2 separate regions of the Homo sapiens genome follow, and region 2 is linked to region 1. The links come from fine-mapping of genetic effects on gene expression. A gene starts in region 1. The other region holds a variant in brackets. All regions are shown on one strand. Distances are from middle to middle. Region 1 holds the start of WFIKKN1 (WAP, follistatin/kazal, immunoglobulin, kunitz and netrin domain containing 1). Region 2 overlaps RAB40C (RAB40C, member RAS oncogene family).

Evidence for each region. PIP is the estimated chance that this variant, and not a neighbour inherited with it, causes the effect. A credible set is the group of variants that fine-mapping cannot tell apart.
Region 2: its variant is the best candidate, but not a certain one, in a credible set for the expression of WFIKKN1 in thyroid (GTEx, PIP 0.66).

What each region holds. Positions count from the first base shown.
Region 1 is chr16:628,578-633,943 of GRCh38, reverse strand. It overlaps WFIKKN1 (WAP, follistatin/kazal, immunoglobulin, kunitz and netrin domain containing 1), which reads right to left and starts at 2,959. Exons shown (of 2, transcript NM_053284.3): 1 at 2,520-2,959; 2 at 1-1,362. The coding sequence starts at 2,690. RAB40C (RAB40C, member RAS oncogene family) reads right to left here. Exons shown (of 6, transcript NM_021168.5): 6 at 4,676-5,366. RefSeq lists enhancers at 2,866-3,600, 3,781-4,075, 3,601-4,334.
Region 2 is chr16:602,297-607,662 of GRCh38, reverse strand. All of the region lies in intron 1 of RAB40C (RAB40C, member RAS oncogene family), which reads right to left. It overlaps LOC124903618 (a long non-coding RNA gene), which reads left to right. Exons shown (of 2, transcript XR_007064934.1): 2 at 1-2,330. Among named protein-coding and RNA genes, the nearest start is that of RAB40C, 15 kb to the right of the region's middle. The variant C/T (reference allele first, on the strand shown) is at 2,233.

The sequences.
Region 1 (5,366 bases):
CACGCCATCGCGCACCTCACCCATGATGACCAGCGGCCCGTCGCCCGCCGTCATGTTGGGGCAGGGGCAGGCCCAGTCCATGCCACTCAGCGTCACCTCCAGGTACTTGGTGCCCAAGAACTTGAGGCCCATCTTGTCATCCTTGAGCACGTCCTCGAGCGCCACGCGGGCGATGCCGCCGGCGGCCTCGGGCTCCTCCAGCACCTCCGTGAGCCGCCCCACGATGGCGAAGTCGCTGCGGCACAGGCTCAGCGCCAGCTTGCTCCGGAGGCGGCAGGCGCGGCAGGGCGGTGTGCGCGGCACGGGGCAGGCATCCTCGCAGCTCTCGCGGCTGTGGAAGTTGTTGCCGTTGCCCTCGCAGCCACCGTACACGAAGGGATGGCACTGCTGCAGCAGCGGGCTGTAGGCCCAGCGCGGCTCCCAGCCCCGGCAGGGGCCCTGCACGGCAGGCAGCACGCAGGCGTCGCCGGGGCCGCGGGCACAGGCCTGCTGGCATGCCTCGTAGGTCTCAAAGCCGCGGGCCGCCCCATCACAGCCACGGGCCGGGAAGGTCATGCAGCCGCCCCGCTGCGGGTCGTAGTGCCAGAGGACAAGGTGTGGGGAAGTGGGGCCCGTGCAGGCCTGCACATCCGGCAGGCACTCGGCCGGGGCTGGGATGCTGGGGGCTGCGTCCCTGGCCGGCTCTCGCTGGACCACAGAGAGTGGGAAGTCAGCCCGCAGCAGCCCAGCAGCGTTGCGCGCGGTGCAGGTGTACAGGCCGGCGTCTTCGGGCCGCGCGTTGTAGAGCACCAGCTGCCCGATGCTGGTGACCACCACGTTGCCATACATCTGATCAGGGCGCATGATCAGGTTCTCTCGCTGGTGACTCTGCTTCTCCCAGGTCACAGCAGGCGGCGGGCGGCCGCTGACGTCGCAGTGGAGGCTGGCCGTACCCCCAACCTGCACCGCCTGTGGGGAGGGGCTGCTGTACAGGGCAGGAGGCACGGGCGCGGCCCCAGGTGTGGGGCGGGCAGTGGTCTCCGGCGGCCCCGGGCTGCTGGGCGGCCAGCTGAGCACGTGCTTGCAGGGCACGATGTGGAGGTGCAGGCCCCGCAGGCAGGCCTCGGCGTCCATATAGCAGCGGTTGTAGTAGGTGAGGCCGTCCGAGGCGCAGGTGAAGCTGGGCTCCTTCTCACAGCGGTCGCGGCAGCGGCACACGGGCTGCCCGTCCCAGATGTCGCAGTCCGAGCCCTGCTGTGGGCACACAAAGCCCTCGCAGGAGGCCGCTGTCGTCGGCGCAGCTGGGCTGCCGGGGAAGCGTGCTGCCACGCAGCTGTGCAGTCCACACACGTTGATGCAGCACTTCTCAGCAGCCGCACAGTCCTGGGGATGGGGGACACTTAGGTGGGAGCCCCAATGCCCCCCGCCCCGGGGCTCTGGCCTGGCCCCTGCAAGGGGAGGCCCAGGTGGGGTAGCAGGGAGCCCCCCGCTCTGTGGCTGCCTCCCCGGGGACTCAGTGTCCTTTCCATCCTGTGTGAGGAGCCACCTCGCCAGAGGTGCCACCTGGCTTACCTTCCAGAATCCTCACACCCACAAGCAAGTTCCGTTATTCTTTACGTTGTACAGACGAGGAAACTGAGGCCCAAGGAGGGCGTACAGTGCTCAGGACCACCCAGCAGGTGGTGCGGGCCAGGACAAAGGCTGGACATCGGCTGCAGCACCCCCACCACCATCTGCACTGGTCCCGGATGGAAGGAGGGTGGGAGGACAGGGAGGACAGTGGATGGAAGGAGAGGGTGGGAGGAGAGGATGGAAGGAGAGGGTGGGAGGAGAGGATGGAAGGAGAGGCAGTGACGGGGTGGGAGAAGAGGATGGAAGAAGTGGATGGGAGGAGTGGATGGGAGGAGTGGATGGGAGGAGAGGGTGGGAGGAGAGGCAGTGAAGGGGTGGGAGAAGTGGATGGGAGGAGAGGATGGAAGGAGAGGCAATGACGGGGTGAGAGAAGAGGATGGAAAAAGTGGATGGGAGGAGTGGATAGGAGAGGATGGAAGGAGAGGCAGTGATGGGGTGGGAGAAGAGGATGGAAGAAGTGGATGGGAGGAGTGGATAGGAGAGGATGGAAGGAGAGGCAGTGACGGGGTGGGAGAAGAGGATGGAAGAAGTGGATGGGAGGAGTGGATGGGAGGAGAGGGTGGGAGGAGAGGATGGAAGGAGAGGCAGTGAAGGGGTGGGAGAAGTGGATGGGAGGAGAGGGTGGGAGGAGAGGGTGGGAGGAGAGGCAGTGACGGGGTGGGGGTGGTCGCCGAGGATGATGGTGCCCCAGGGTGGAGGCACATGGGGAGCATGAAAGCTGGAGTGGGGAGGGCTCTTATTCTTAAGACAAATGAGGGCAACGATGGGGGTGTCTCTGGGCCCCTTAAGGGGCCCAGACCCAGACCCCCCAGAAGTCTGGGGAGCCCAGGCAGAAGGTGGCACCTCCAGCAGGGTCTTGCCCAGGCTGGCTGCTCTGAGCCCCAGGACCCCGGCCCGACCACACTCACCTGGTCCCTGCTACACTCGCGCTCACAGGTGCTCTGGGCGTCCACCCACAGGTTGGGGCTGAGCTGGTTGGGGCACACGCCCGGGTGGCTCCCCAGCCCTGGCAGCAAGCCAGCCCCCGAGGTCAGCCGGAGGAGGAGCAGGAGCGGCAGGAGTGGACGTAGGGCGGGCATGAGGGCCGCCGAGCCAGGGGGCCGGGGGGTGTGGCCACCAGCCCCTCCTCGGGCTCCACAGAGCCCAGCTTCCTGCAGGCATCCACCCTCCGGGCCTGTGGTCGGTGCCCCCACCAGGACCCCGGGGCTCCCTTTTGCCCCTGAGGCTGAAGCCTGCAGCAGATGCTTGTCCTGACACCCCTGCTGGGTGGGTAACGGGGTCTCCAAGTTCTCAGAGGCCGTCTGTGTGACGCTGGTTCCTCTCCAGCTTCAGCCTGGCCCCTCTGTCTGAACCGTGCGGGGGCTCCCAGGCCCTGGTCAGCACAGGGCAGAGGGGAGGAGGTTGGGGAGGGGCCAGAGGCCCATGAGCACAGAGCCACTGGCCATGAGGGTCACCGGGGCGGGGAAGGGCTGGCTCTGGCTGGAGAGGGGGAGGGGAGGGGACCCTGTAACCTGAACCCCTTCGTCCACCCCTGGGCTGAGATCAATCTCCTTGACGACCCTCAGTAGGGTGGGGGCAGGGCCAGCAGATCCCAGCTTTTGTCCCTGGCGCCCTCTGGACCCCAGGCTCCTATGCCATGGGGGTGGCAGGCACGGGCCCTCCCCGCAGAGCGTGGCTGACCACAGCCTGGGTCCCCCGGGCCAGGTCCAGGCTGGCAACGGTCACGTGCGGCCGAGGGCTTCACTCCGCTCCGAGGTTCCTTCCCCCCTCCATGGCTGTTTCAGGGGCACAGGGGTCTGCAGGACGCCCAGCACAGCCCGGCCTCCTCTGCTCTGCTGCCCCTGTTGGAGTGGGGCCCAACCCGGCAGGACTGCATTCCCAGAGACCCCATCCCTGAAACCAGGCAGCGGGCTTGGGGCTCAGGCCTGTCCCCAAGGCGGGGCAGGTGCAGCAGGAAGAGGCCTGTGGCCACCACAAGCATAAGAACAGCCCGAAACGCTGATGCCGGAGCCTCGGCCCACGCACCGTGTAGCCCTGGACGTGGCTCCGCGTGGGATGGCACCGCCCGAGGGAAGGCCAAGTGCAAGGGCGTCTGCAGCTGAAAAGAGCAAGTGTCCCAGGGCACCAGAGCCTTGCCCTGCCCCAGCCCCCCGTCGGCGGGGCACACATCCCCAGGCTGGCTCCTCTTCGTTGGGGAGGGCAGGGGGCTGGCCTGCCTGGTGCAGCAGGACAAAAGGCTGCCTGGAATCTACCCTTCCAAACCCTCTGTGGCTCCAGATGTCTGGGGCCTCAGGGAGTGGTTCTCTTGAGACCGGATGGGAGTGTCCCCCTGACCCTGTGTCTGACCTCTGACCCAGGAGGCAGGGTAACAGGAGCCTGGTCTGGTCAGAATGAGACCCGGAGACGGCTCCAGGCGCCAGTCCCTGCTCTACAAGGAGACTGGGGGTGGGCCCTGATAGCGTGGGGGTGGGGGTAGCTAGGCCAGACCCAGCAGCAGGCGGCTGGGCTGGAGCTGCCAGGGAGGGGCTTAAGGCCCGGACATGCCCACGAAACAGCACAGGGAGGCACCTGAGCCAGAGGCTGTGGTCTGGTCCCTGTACCAACTGGAGTGCCCCGTTCCAGCTCAGCTGTGACCTCCGGGGCGTCCACACCCCCCTGGGCCGGGCATAGCAGACACCAGATTGGCCAGCGTGCAGGCGGCTCTGCTGAGCGGGCCGACTGACTGGAGGACCTGGCCCTCTGGAGTCCTGCTGCTGTTGGGGACAGTCCGCCCCAGGCCATCTGCTGCCGGGGACTGTGAGCGAGGGCTCAGCACAGCCCAGCTGGGATTCCATCCACCGGGAAGAGGAGAATGGCCGTGACCAGGCCCAGCTGCTCCAGCCCAGCTCCAGCCCTCACTTTGAGGCGAACCCAGCCAACCGCGGCAGGTCAGCCCGGTCAGCGCAGGGAACAGCAGGCAAAACAAAGGCCAGAGGTCAGTTTGCCGGGTATGAAGCAGCACTGGCCCCTGGCACGGGGCACCGCCACTGCCAGACCCACCCCACCAGACACAGCAAAACGTGGGGACCACAGCTGAATTACATTTACTGTACAAAGAACGGTTCGGAGAGAACCAGGAATGGCGGAGTGTCTAACAGCAGCGCGGGTAGTGTTGATGCCGTGAATGCAGGACCATCCAGGTCCTCAAAGTCTGTGAGGTTTGTTCATAATCCCAAACAAGGGCCCTGCTGGCAGCAACAGGACAGGTGGGGCCAGGACAGGGAAGCTGGAGCAGGAGGCCAGTGTCTTTGGGGGCTGTGGCAGGGCCGCCTGCCTGGGGTTCCCTTACTCATCTGGTAGTTCATGCAGGCCACGGCCCTCATCTCCCAGGAACGGGCCATGGGGCGAGTCCACTGGTGCCCAGTAACACCCTCCGTGGGACCACCTTGGGAAGCATGTGCCGCGGAGTCCACCACGGGGGGTCCTGGGTCCCGGGAGGGCTCCTTCTGCGTGCTGGCCATGTCGTGCCGCACGGCCTGAGGACAGGAGGTAGAGGTGAGCACCAGTGCTGTGGGCAGGCCCAGGCGATGGTGACCGTGCAGAGGGGCTGCTGGGGCAGGCATGGGCAGAAGCACTGGGTGGAGGAGCGGCCAATGGCTTCAGGAGAGAGGTGGCCGGCCCTGCGTGCCTGGGGCTCAGCATGAGCGCCGGGCTGGTGGGCCTTTGAGGAGGGGCCTAGCCTCCCGAGGCCCCCAGGTGGACGTGGACGTGGACGA
Region 2 (5,366 bases), 26 kb after region 1:
CCCACCACCGCGCCTGCCTAATTTTTTGTATTTTTGGTAGAGACGGGGTTTCACCGTGGTCTCCATCTCCTGACCTTGTGATCCGCCCGCCTAGGCCTCCCAAAGTGCTGCGATTACAGGCGTGAGCCACCGCGCCCGGCCCCCCGTTTTTTTTTTTTTTTGAGACAGTTTCACTCTCGTTGTCCAGGCCGGAGTGTGGTGGCGCAATATCAGCTCACTGCAACCTCTACCTCCCATGTTCAAGTGATTCTCCTGCCTCAGCCTCCCGAGTAGCTGGGATTACAGGCACCCACCACCATGCCCAACTAATTTTTTTTTTTGTATTTTTAGTAGAGATGGGGTTTCACCATGTTGGCCAGGCTGGTCTCAAACTCCTGACCTCAGGTTATCCACCCACCTCGGCCTCCCAAAGCGCTGGGATGACAGGGTTGAGCCACCGTGCCCAGGCGACTTTGTTTTCAACAGTCATCAACGTGCTGGTGGTCTGGGGAGTGGACGTGGCACCTGTGCCCCTGCCCATGGAGGCCAATCTGCCCAGGGACTGTCAGCAGAGTTGCTGTAAGGCAGCCGAGGGAGGCTGGCTGCTGAGCCTGCGTAGCACCCTCGGCTCGGAAGTGGGACCCTCGGCCACCTGAGTGGAGGTTCCTTGGCTCAGGTGGTAGTCTGTCTGTCTGGGCCGGCCTGCCACCAGCAGCCATGTTCCTGCAGGGCACAGTGCAGGGGCTGTTTGCTGCTGAGTTGCTAGCATGGGACTCTGCAGACAGGATTAAGGTGCACGGATCTCGAGGTGGGAGATTATCCGGGATTATCTGGGTGGGGCCAATTAACTACATAAGTCCTTAACCGCCTTTCCTGGCTGAGCTACAGATGAGACAGAAGGAGAGTCAAAGCATGAGAGGGACTTCACCCGCCAGTGCTGGCTCTGCAGATGGGCAAGGGCCCTCCGTGAACAACGCAGGCGGCCTGGAGAAGCCGGGAAAGGCTCGGCTTGCACCCAGCAAGGTGCTACTGCCAGTCCTACCACCAGCAAGAACGGAATTCTGCCAACCTCCCAACGAGCAAGAGAACATCTTCCTGTAGGGCCTGCAAAAAGCAAAGCCCTGGCCAACACCTTGACTTCAGCCCAGGGAAACCCACACTGGACTGAGGACCGAGAGGACTGTGTGTCAGCCAACACCTTGACTTCAGCTCAGGGAAACCCACACTGGACTGAGGACCGAGAGGACTGCGTGTCAGCCAACACCTTGACTTCAGCCCAGGGAAACCCACACTGGACTGAGGACCGAGAGGACTGCGTGTCAGCCAACACCTTGACTTCAGCCCAGGGAAACCCACACTGGACTGAGGACCGAGAGGACTGTGTGTCAGCCAACACCTTGACTTCAGCCCAGGGAAACCCACACTGGACTGAGGACCGAGAGGACTGTGTGTCAGCCAACACCTTGACTTCAGCCCAGGGAAACCCACACTGGACTGAGGACCGAGAGGACTGTGTGTCAGCCAACACCTTGACTTCAGCCCAGGGAAACCCACACTGGACTGAGGACCGAGAGGACTATGTGTCAGCAATAACAGAAAAGGAGTAGAAAGGCCATCTATTGCGGCCCTGTATTTATTATAAATAAACTGAATCCAAACTAAAAATCCACCCACTGGGGAATGGTTACTGACAGAATAGAAATGTTCTATGGCTATTACAAAGAAACAAGCTTGCAGCCATCAGCATGGCTAAAAGGAAGGCAGGACTTAGAACAAACAGGACTCTCCCTCTCTCCTGTGGGACAGAAACTGTGTGACTGCTTTGGAGAACGGGTTGGCAGCATCTACACAGGCCCTACAGCCCAGCTTCCACTCCTCAGTACGTCCCAACAGCAATGGGCACCTGTGTTGACCAAACGCGTCTGAGACTCCTCACAGGAGCCCTGTGAGAGTCACCCAACATGGAAACCATCCCAAAGCCCATCTGGAGTGGAGCCAATGCACTGCAGCCTTGACACACGGGAGACCACTCGGCGCGGGGAAGGAGGGAGCAACTGCACTCAACCACGTGGCCGAAGCTCACCCAGAAGACATGGAAAGAAGGCAGCCGGACACAGGAGAGTTTGCCCTGTGTGGCTCCATTGACGTGAAAACTAGACAAGGCAGATGAGTCCACAGTGACATGCCAGGCCGGGGGCAGAGTGTGAGAGGCCTGCAGAGGGCGAGGCTGCGAGGGCTGATGCTTTCTCAGGC[C/T]GGCATGCCTGTCCGCACTCACTGTATTGCAGACTTTAAAGGGGTTTTTTTGTACACAAATTACACCTCAATAAAGCTGATTAATTAAAAGACGGAAAGCTGACAACATCAAATGTTGGCAAAGATGTGGAGCACCTGGAACTCTCATGCATTGCTGATGGGACTATGAAACAATGGGGCTGCTTGAGCAAACAGTTTTCTCTTTTGAGATCAGGTCTCACTGTGCTGCTCAGGCTGGAGTGCAGCGGAACAATCACGGCTCGCTGCAGCCTCCAACTCCAGGGCTCACACGATCCTCCTGCCTCAGCCTCCTGAGTAGCTAAGACTATTACAAGTGTGCGTCACCACACCAGGCTAATTTATTTATTTTTTTGAGACAAAGTCTCACTCTGTCGCCCAGGCTGGAGTGCAGTGGCATGATCTCAGCTCACTCCAACCTCCGCCTCCCGGGTTCAAGTGATTGTCCTGCCTCAGCCTCCCAAGTAACTGGGACCACAAGCACCACCACCACACCAGGCTAACTTTGTATTTTTAGTAGAGATACGGTTTCACCATGTTGGCCAGGCTGGTCTCAAACTCCTGACCTCAAGTGATCTGCCTGCCTCGGCCTCCCAAAGTGCTGAGACTACAGGCATGAGCCACCACACCCAGCCCCAGGCTAATTTTTCAATATGTTTATAGCAACGAGTTCTCACTATGTTGCCCAGGCTGGGCAAGCTTATAAATTAAAACGTACACTCATATATGACAGCAATTCCACTCTTAGATCTACCTAAGGGAACAGAAACACCTTCAGAAAGACTCACATATATTCTAGAGAAACACCTTCAGAAGGACTCACGTGTATTCTAGAGAAACACCTTCAGAAAGACTCACATATATTCTAGAGAAACACCTTCAGAAAGACTCACGTGTATTCTAGAGAAACACCCTCAGAAGGACTCACGTGTATTCTAGAGAAACACCTTCAGAAGGACTCACATATATTCTAGAGAAACACCTTCAGAAGGACTCGTGTATTCTAGAGAAACACCTTCAGAAGGATTCACGTGTATTCTAGAGAAACACCTTCAGAAGGCCTCGTGCGTATTTGTGTTATAGTTTAGTGCTAGTGCCACTGAACTGTATCCCTACATATGGCTAAAATGACGTGTTTTCTGTATTTTACAAGAAAAATAATTAAAAAAAAAAATTTAAAAGAACTAGCTCTGAGCCGGGTGTGGTGGTACATGCCTGTAGTCCCAGCTGCTAGGGAGCTGCTAGGTGGGAGGATCAGTTGAGCCCAAGAGGTAGAGGCTGCAGTGAGCTGAGATCATACCACTGCACTCCAGCTGGGGCAACAGAACGAGAGTCTCAAAAAAAAAAAAAAGAAAAAGAAAAAAGAAGAACTCGTTCACATCAGCATTATTCGTAATACCCCAAACCAGGAAATAACCCAAATGTGCATCAACAAGGTAAATGCATAAACAAACTGGGGTATATTTGTGCAAAGGAATACCACTTGGGAACAAAAAAAGAAGAATCTACTATTGTACATCATGAATAAGTTTCAAAACTGCTGAGCAAAAGAAACCAGGGTCTGCTTCGTATCCATGATGTCTGGAACAGGAAAAAGCAGCCCATGTGATGGAAGCCGACTGCTGGGGGCTGGGGGCTGACTCGGCAGGGCCTGAGGGGCTTTCTGGGAGGAGAGTGGATGTGCTCCTGATTTGGATGAGGGTACTGGCTGCATAGGTACATATATGTGCCAAAACTCATAGAACTGTACATGCAAAGAGGGTACATTTATTAAATAGACATCATCTCTCAATAAAATTGATTTAAAAAAATTAAACCCACAGGGCATTGATCTGCTTTGAATTTGGAGGTCTAAGGATTAGGGGACCGGATTACCCTACAAGACAGCCTGAACACATATCAGAGCCAGATGTGAAGGCACTGCCTGTCCCTGAAGACCTGGGGCTCTAAGTCATTCACGTGCGGGGCCGGCGCTCCGCATTCAATCTTCCGGCATACCACTCCCCTCGGATGTCTTCTGAGACAAGGACAGCCCACGTCCACCAACCCCACTGCAGGCAAACCGGCGCCTGCCTGATGGAGGACAGTAAAGGAAGGAAAAGTTATCTAACAAATTTCAAATGTGTCTGTGTACACCAGCATGCCAAATGTCAGAAGAAATTCTAGGGCAGTTTGTGGACTGGTTTCCTGCGAAGCTAGAGCTTTTACTTAACGCCTTAAAACCCACAACAAGCCAAAAGGGCTCTCGTGTCTACAAAGAGCAGGCACACTTGGCACAGAACACCTGGCTAAACACAGAACATTAAGAAAACAAAAAACACAGGTCTGGCCCCAGCTACTCAGGAGGCTGAGGCAGGAGGATTGCTTCAGCGCCACGGTTCAAGACCAGCCTGGGCAACACAGTGAGACCCTATCTCTTAAAATTCTCCTCTCCCATCTTTTAAGGAGCAGATCCCATAGCTCTCAGATTACTTTCAATGATTACAAATCCAGCTTAGTGTGGCTTAAACCCCAATCTCATGTCCACTTTAAGACTCATTTCTGGCTGTGCTTGGTGGCTAACACCTGTCATCTCGACACTTTGGGAGGCCAAGGTGAGAGAATCACTTGAGCCCAGGAGTTCAAGACCACTAGCCTAGGCAACATGGCAAGACCTCAATTCTACAAAAAATAATTTATTGGCCAGGCACAGTGGCTCACGCCTGTAATCCCAGCACTTTGGGAGGCCGAGGTGGGTGGATCACTTGAGGTCAGGAACTCGAGACCAGCCTGGCCGACATGGTGAAACCTCATCTCTACTAAAAAAATACCAAAAAACTAGCCGGGCGTGGTGGCAGGTGCCTGTAATCCCAGCTACTCGGGGGGCTGAGGCAAGAGGCTTGAACCCAGGAGGCAGACGTTGCAGTGAGCCAAGATCGTGCCATCACACTCCAGCCTGGTGGACAAGAGCAAGACTTTGTCTCAAAAATAAAAAAATAATTTATTAAAAAATTAGCCAGGTGTTGTGGTGCATGCCTATGGTCTTAGCTACTTGAGAGGCTGAGGCGGGAGGATCACTAGAACCCTGGAATTTGAGGCTGCAGTGAACTATGATCACTGCACTCCAGCCTGGAAGA